Linked DNA regions of Homo sapiens. The protein of the gene in region 2 purifies or fractionates together with the protein of the main gene of each other region. This does not show direct contact. Each region holds a gene or a part of one and is shown on either strand. Other genes may lie near its edges.

The links.
Region 1: the proteins of RMDN1 (region 2) and EXOC6B fractionate together in Homo sapiens (co-fractionation; one large-scale study listed by BioGRID). This does not show direct contact.

What each region holds. Positions count from the first base shown.
Region 1 is NC_000002.12:72,815,822-72,819,649, forward strand, and holds part of EXOC6B (exocyst complex component 6B), read right to left. Parts: intron 1-3,828. UniProt on the Homo sapiens protein: Component of the exocyst complex involved in the docking of exocytic vesicles with fusion sites on the plasma membrane.
Region 2 is NC_000008.11:86,484,393-86,488,220, forward strand, and holds part of RMDN1 (regulator of microtubule dynamics protein 1), read right to left. Parts: intron 2,252-3,828; coding exon 2,092-2,251; intron 570-2,091; coding exon 480-569; intron 1-479.

The DNA.
Region 1 (3,828 bases), on a different chromosome or scaffold from region 2:
TAGCAATCTTACTTGTGGGAATCTATCCTATAGATACAGTACGAAATGTACAATAGGCCTAGCGCAGTGGCTCAGGCATGTAATCCCAGTACTTTGGGAGGCCAAGGCGGTCGGATCATTTGAGGTCAGGAGCTCAAAACCAGCCTGGCCAATATGGTGAAATCCCTTCTCTACTAAAACTACAAAAATCAGCCGGGCGTGGTGATGGGCACCTGTAATCCCAGCTACTCGCCAGGGTGAGGCAGGAGAATCGCTTGAGCCCGGGAGGCGGAGGTTGCAGTAAGCAGAGATTGCGCCACTGCATTCCACTCTGGGAGACAGAGCAAGACTCCGTCTCAAAAACAAAACAAATAAAAAAAGAAATGTGCAATAAAAAATGACCAATATTCAAGGCTATCCCTTCCTGCATTATTTTTTCTGGCAAAAGGCTGGAAATAATCCAAATATCCAGAAACAGAACTAGTTTAATAAACCATGATATATTTACATAATGGAATACTATGTAGCTATTTAAAAAAAATAAGGAAAACCTCTATATACTGATATGGACAAATCTCAAAAATATATGTATAACTAAAAAACTAAGCTGCAGAAGTCTATACAATAACACTATTTATTTTGTAAAAAGGAGAAAATAAGATAATATATGCTCCTATTTGCATAAGAAAGCAATGGAAGAATAAACAACAAACGAATAAAATGGGGAAATAGAAGGAATGAGACAAAAAATGTTTGTTAGATCTATGATTCATATCCTTTTCTTTCCACTTTTTAAATAAAATATTTCAAACCCACACAAGATAATTTACCTATATCATTTTTTATTTTCAAAATTACAGTAGATAAGATTTCCAGGAGCTCAGGTTCCTCAGAATTACATATTTGATCTGATGATAACTAACAAACTCTTGAAATTTAATACAGGAATACTTAGCAAATGCTACACTCCCATTTAATTTCTCTCTATGGCTACTAATTTTTCTGTGGTGTGAATCTAATCAATCAGATAACAAATCAGCATAACCTCCACTGGAAGAGCTTCAATGAAAATTGTTGTCTATTTAACTCAAACAAAATCAAACACAGAGCCCATTGCTAGCTAACTGAACCAAATCAACATTGTCTTATTAGCCACAGATTCTTCATAATTTTTTCATTTTTCCAGTTTGCTTGATAACTCAATGAGGACATTTTTTAAAAACAAGTTTCTCTTTATCAAACCACAAAAAAATTTATTCTCCTATTCCATATTGTAATGAAACTTATTTAACATTATCCACCCCTTTTTACCCAAATGTACAATTTCAACTTTTTGCTAAATGTTAAGCTTTATTTATATAACATGCACTCAGATCATAATGCTTTCATCATTAGAGTTACTATTCTTAAACCTGCAAACTTTTGACAGCACTACAAAGAACACTGAGGAATGACAGGCTTTTTAAAAATTATTTTAGATTACACTTCTGACTGATGAAGAGAAAGAAGAACTATAAAGTTATATGTAGTTATAAAAAACATTTCTGATATGTAGAGGCTTTTGAAATTTTCATTAGTTTTATTTTCTCTCAAAAAGAAGTCATATTTTTAAGACAGTTAATCTGCAAATCAGTTAATTAATTCCCAGATAATTAACAGTTGGTGATACAATTTTTTAATTCTTCTATTCGTTCAACAAATATTTACTGAGCACCAACTATATGCCAGGCACCCTTTGGGTTCCCAGGATACAGCAGCAAACAAAAGAAACAAAATCCCTTCCCCCCTTGAACAGACATTCCAACAGGGTAGACAATCAAAAATAAAATGTCAGGCTGTAATAAGTTATTCAAAGAAAAGTAAAGTTCCTCCCTTTATTGTTCCCTATCCCAATAATTGGCATCACCATCATCTGATTGCTTAGGCCAAGAGCCTTGGAATCATCCTTGATCCTCTCTTTAATTCCCATAACTAATCCATCGTTTTGGCACTACCTTCAAAACATATTCTAAATCCAGCTACTTCTCATCACCTCCTCCCTATTACCATATTGCATGCCATAACCATCTCTTGCCTCTTATTACTGCAAACATCCCCTAACTGGTTTCCCTGTTTCCTCTCTTACTCTGTCTCCACACAGCAGCCAGAACATTCCTTGTTTGTTTGTTGTTGTTGTTGTCATTGTTTTTGAGACAGAGTCTCGCTCTGTCGCCCAGGCTGGAGTTCAGTGGTGCGATCTCCACTCACTGCAACCTCTACCTCCTGGGTTCAAGTGATTCTCCTGCCTTAGCCTCCTGAGTAGCTGGGATTACAGGTGCCCACCACCACGCCAGGCTAATTTTTGTTTTGTTTTCTTTTCTTTTGAGACGAGTCTCGCACTGTCTCCCAGGCTCGAGGGCAGTAGCGCGATCTCGGCTCACTGCAAGCTCCGCCTCCCAGGTTCACGCCATTCTCCTGCCTCAGCCTCCCAAGTAGCTGGGACTACAGGTGCCTGCCACCAGGCCCAGCTAATTTTTTTTTTTTTTTTTTTTTTTGTATTTTTAGTAGAAACGGGGTTTCACCATGTTAGCCAGGATGGTCTCGATCTCCTGACCTCGTGATCCGCCCGCCTCGGCCTCCCAAAGTTCTGGAATTACAGGCGTGAGCCACCGTGCCAGGCCATTTTTGTATTTTTAGTAGAGACACGGTTTCACCATGTTGGCCAGGCTGGTCTTGAACTCCTGGCCTCAAGTGATCTGCCCTCCTTGGCCTCCCAAAGTGCAGAGATTGCAAGCATGAGCCACTGTACCTGGCCACATTCCTTGTTTAATCTAAGTGACCACATGTCACTTTCCTGCTCAAAACTCTCCTGTACTTTCCCATAATGCTCAGAATAAAAACTCTCCTGTACCTTTCCATAACATTTAGAATAAAATCAAAGTCTCTTTCTTAGTCTACATGATCTGGACCCTGACTACTTTCTTACCACCACTTCCCACCGTTATCCTTTTCCTGAGGGCCTTGGCACTTACTGTCCCCTTTGTATGGAAGGTATTTCCCTCACAGAGAGCCATATGGCTTGTTGCTTCACTCTATTCAAACCTTTGCCAAAGCTACCTTTCCTAATCCCCTAATTGAAAGCAATAACCCAGTCATTATGTAACATTAATCGCTAAATAGCACTACATTATATATTTATTCATTTATTCTGTAAGTGCCCACTCCGGACTCTATAAGCTCAATAAGGATAGGGACTTGTCTATATTGCTGCCTGCTGTACCCCAGAGCCTGGAAGAGTATCTGGCACATAGACATTGCTCAATATTGAATGAATATATGAATGAATCAATTCATTAATAAAGCCACTAAAGTGACATCATTATAATGTATAAACCTGTATATAACATGTTAACTGAAAAAGCAAGACACATAATAATCATCTAATATTTAATATAATAACATGCATATAAAAAAGTTAAGAGGAAATATAAAAATATAAAAGTGGTGGAAAGGTAATAGAATTAAGTTATTTGTTGTTGTTTCTTCTTAAGTCATTCTATTACATTTATAATTAAAATATAAAAATGTCATTTTTAAAAGGGCACTACTATTAAAAAATAAGCATGAGCAATGGGAATGTTCTTCCCCTCAGTGATTGTCAAGGACGGAGTATATCACAATCACCTGAAGGGCTTTTATATATTTATTTCCTATCTCCTCCTCCTTTCTCTGCTCCACCCCAAAATAACCCCTCCCAGGATTGATTATTGATAAGTATTATATCCCTTAGATATGTGGGACCAGGAAAAGGAAACAAAAAAAATAGGCTAACCACTAAACTAACAAAACTCAAAAAATAGAAATACTTAA
Region 2 (3,828 bases):
GCGCTCAGTTAACCCAAAGAATTGCAAGAAATAACAAACTGTCGGCTGGGCACAGTGGCTCACACCTATAATCCCAGCACTTTGAAAGGCCGAGGCAGGTGGATCACCTGATGTCAGGAGTTTGAGACCAGCCTGGCCAAAATGGTGAAACCACACCTCTACTAAAAACACAAAAATTAGCCAGATGTGGTGGTGTGCCCCTGTAATCCCAGCTACTCGGGAGGCTGAGGCAGGAAAATTGCTTGAACCCGGGAGGCGGAGGTTGTAGTGAGCTGAGATAGCACCATTGCACTCTAGCCCGGATGACAAGAGCGAAACTCCGTCTCAAAAAAAAAAAAAAAAAGAAATAACAAACTGTCATGGCTCTACTCCACTGTTATCATAGGTGGTTTGATATACAGCAATAGATAATGAAAACAAAAATCTATTCAGAAAAATATGACTTTTAAAATTCATGAATTTGAATAATTCATCAGTACCTCAAAATGCTCCTTGATGATATATGCATTTGCAATTTTAGCCTTGATGCCTTCATAATCTCCAACATCACTAAGGCAGATTGCATACCACTGAAAATTTAAAAAAGTGTAAGAACAATAATATTCTTAATATTCCATTCAATACAAGGTAAAACTGTATAATATTCTTCAATAGTCATTCTCATCCAACAAAAAGTTACTGAGCATAAAAACTGTATTAAATGTAATGGAATATATAAAGAGAAGTGGACATGGCCCTCTAGAAACTCAGGAATAGGGTTGGGCGCAGTGGCTCACGCCTGTAACAGTACTTTGGGAGGCCGAGGTGGATGGATCACCTGAGGTCAGGAGTTTGAGGCCCTGGCCAACATGGTGAAACCTTATCTCTACTAAAAATACAAAAATTAGCTGGGCATGGTAGCATGTGCCTGTAATCCCAGCTACTTGGGAGGCTGAGGCAGAAGAATCACTTGAACCCGGGAGATGGAGGTTGCAGTGAGCCAAGATCACACCACTGTACTCCAGCCTGGACAACAGAATGAGACTATGTCTAAAACAAAACAAAACAAAACAAAAAAACCTCAGGGATAGGACATGTTTATAGAGAACTATAATACAAGGTAGAAAGTGGTGAATTTTCCAAGAAAGTTACCAACACAATGAGATAATGGTTCATGTTTATGGTCTGAGTATCAATTTAGAAGAATATGTAATTGAATGTTTTATTTTCTCATTCTCTTTTCTTGGAGTTCCATCTACTCTCACATTGCATTGTTATAGTAAGAACAGCCACAATGTCAACTGTGACCTTGTCTCCACAGCCACAGTTGGACGGCAGACCCAAACTGAGATGACCTGAGTTTCTTTCCCAAGAAATGAATCTAAAATAGCCACACTTCAAAAACCCAGGTGCTGTGGAAAGTCACAAGACTTAGGATAAGGAGAAAAAAAATGTCTGCAATGAAAAAGATTTTCAGGTAACAGCAGAGTAGAGAAACAATTAATGAAGCCTCGGAGCAATCAAGCCAATTGTTTCCCAAGGTCCAACTTCACCCTGCCTTTGGGTTCTATGAAGTCCAACAATCCAGAAGGCTAATGACCACCTCGTCTCCCCGTACGATTTACTGAAAAACGTTGTTGTGAACCAACAAGAAATCCTGAAAGCAGCTAAGTTACATGTGAAAAGTCATTCTAGGTCTCAGTTGTCTAGCTGTTATATTCCTACCTCTAAATAAAACAGAAATATAACGTAAGGAAAATGAGAAAACATCTGTGAAGTGCTTATACTACTAAGAATATAGATATAGGTAATTCATGAAATTACTAAACTCCTGTTTAAAAATAAGCATTCACAAAAGTAATTTATCAAATACATATGAAGTTAGACCAAATGTTTACAAAAACAAAGACTTCTTTTTGAAAAACTTATAAAAATAACTATCTTCCCTACTTCTTTAAAATAGAGAAATTATCCTTAAGATATAAGATTGAATAAAAAGAAAAAAAAACTTAAAATAGAGAAATTGTTCTTCCAATGTAAATCAGAGATAATAGAAAAATATAGAAAATGTACCTCTCAGTACATGGTTAATAGCTTAGTTAAGCAACTCACCTTATGAGATGCAAAACTTGATTCATTTTTTTCTAGTGCTCTTTTTGCATACTCTAGGGCTTCATACACCAATAGCTTTTTCTCCTCTTCTGAGGTTCTGCTAAGCTGAGCTACATCACGTGATGCCCGTGCCAAACGCCACAGTAACTCTGCATCTTCACTAATTTGAAATAAAATATAAAACAACCATTTTAGCTCACATTTAAAAATTGTTAAGGGTTACATTACTAATGAATACATTATGGTCTTTCAGCTTAGGAAGCTAGCAACATGATATCAAAAGCCATTAGTAATAATGCTAAATTTATTATTTTCTTTAATATAAAACCTTTACTTGCTAAAATTTCCTATAAAAATGTCTAATATCCATAAATATTAACTTACCTCTAGTATCTAAAATACTTCTTTCAAAAATATCTTTGCATTCAAATTCTCTGAACATTTGCCCTACAAAACTCAACATATTAACTTGAGGTTTGGCCTCACTGGCACTGTGTTTCAAATAACTCACTCAGTAGTTCATACAGTATCATAAAATACATAAATTTTATAGACAGGGTCATGTTCTAAAAATACAAAACTGCTGAATCCCTAGTCTCAAATACAGCACCTGACACAAAATTGTTTTTGACAATTATTTGCTAATGAATGAATGGTTGAATATAATGTAATCTCAAAATAAATCCTATGTTTGAATACCATGCCATGATGCATGGGTTACTTCAAGTAAGAGCATTGGATTCTTTGAAGAACTGCCATTTCCATATAATGACATAAGAAATGGTTAATAAATTATTAACCACCACAACTGACAGAAATAATTGTAAAAATTAAATTCCGCCAGGCACAGTGGCTCACGCCTGTAATCCCAGGACTTTGGGAGGCCAAGGCGGGCAGATCACCTGAGGTCAGGAGTTCAAAACCAGCCTGATCAACATGTACTAAAAATACAAAATTAGCCGGGTGTGGTGGCACATGTCTGTAATCCCAGCTACTCGGGAGGCTGAGCCAGAAGAATCGCTTGAACCTGGAGGGTAGAGGTTGCAGTGAGCCAAGATTGCGCCATTGCACTCCAGCTTGGACAACAAGAGCAAAACTGTCTCAAAAAAATAAAATAAAATAAAATAAATAATAAATTCTTTTTTATTAAATGTTTGCCTTTAATCCTAACTTTATTTTTTTAACATAAAAAAAAATTTGAAGCTAAAGCTTCCTTTAATTAAGATAGTTATCATTCAATGAATATGGAGTAACTACCTTACAGCTTATTTTTCAAGTTATCAATGAAATGACAATAAAATGCCAAACCAGCCACCTTGAATTACTAAGGGAAGAATGGAGAAGAAAAGATCAATCCTGTAGATATTTAGAAAGTAAAATTGATGGGTCCTGGGGAGAAAACTGGTTTTGAAAATCTAAAAAAGGCAGATGAAAATGACTCAATATTTTTAGTTTAGGAGATGAGGTAGATTAGTGATCTAGAAATGCTATTTAGCCATATGACTTACTTCATAGGGTTGAGTCTTTCTCTCGCTCCACACTCCTCCCAAAAATGAGTACACACTGATATTCTACACTAAACATACAATCTAATAATAAAAATAGAAAAAGGGGGTATTTTTGGTTTCTCTGAAAGACTATCCTTCTAAAGTAATACACAGTTACCACTCAATGGTGGCATGCAACATCCTACATCTCAGTGAATTCATTTAATCTATACCAATAAAAAGTTACTTT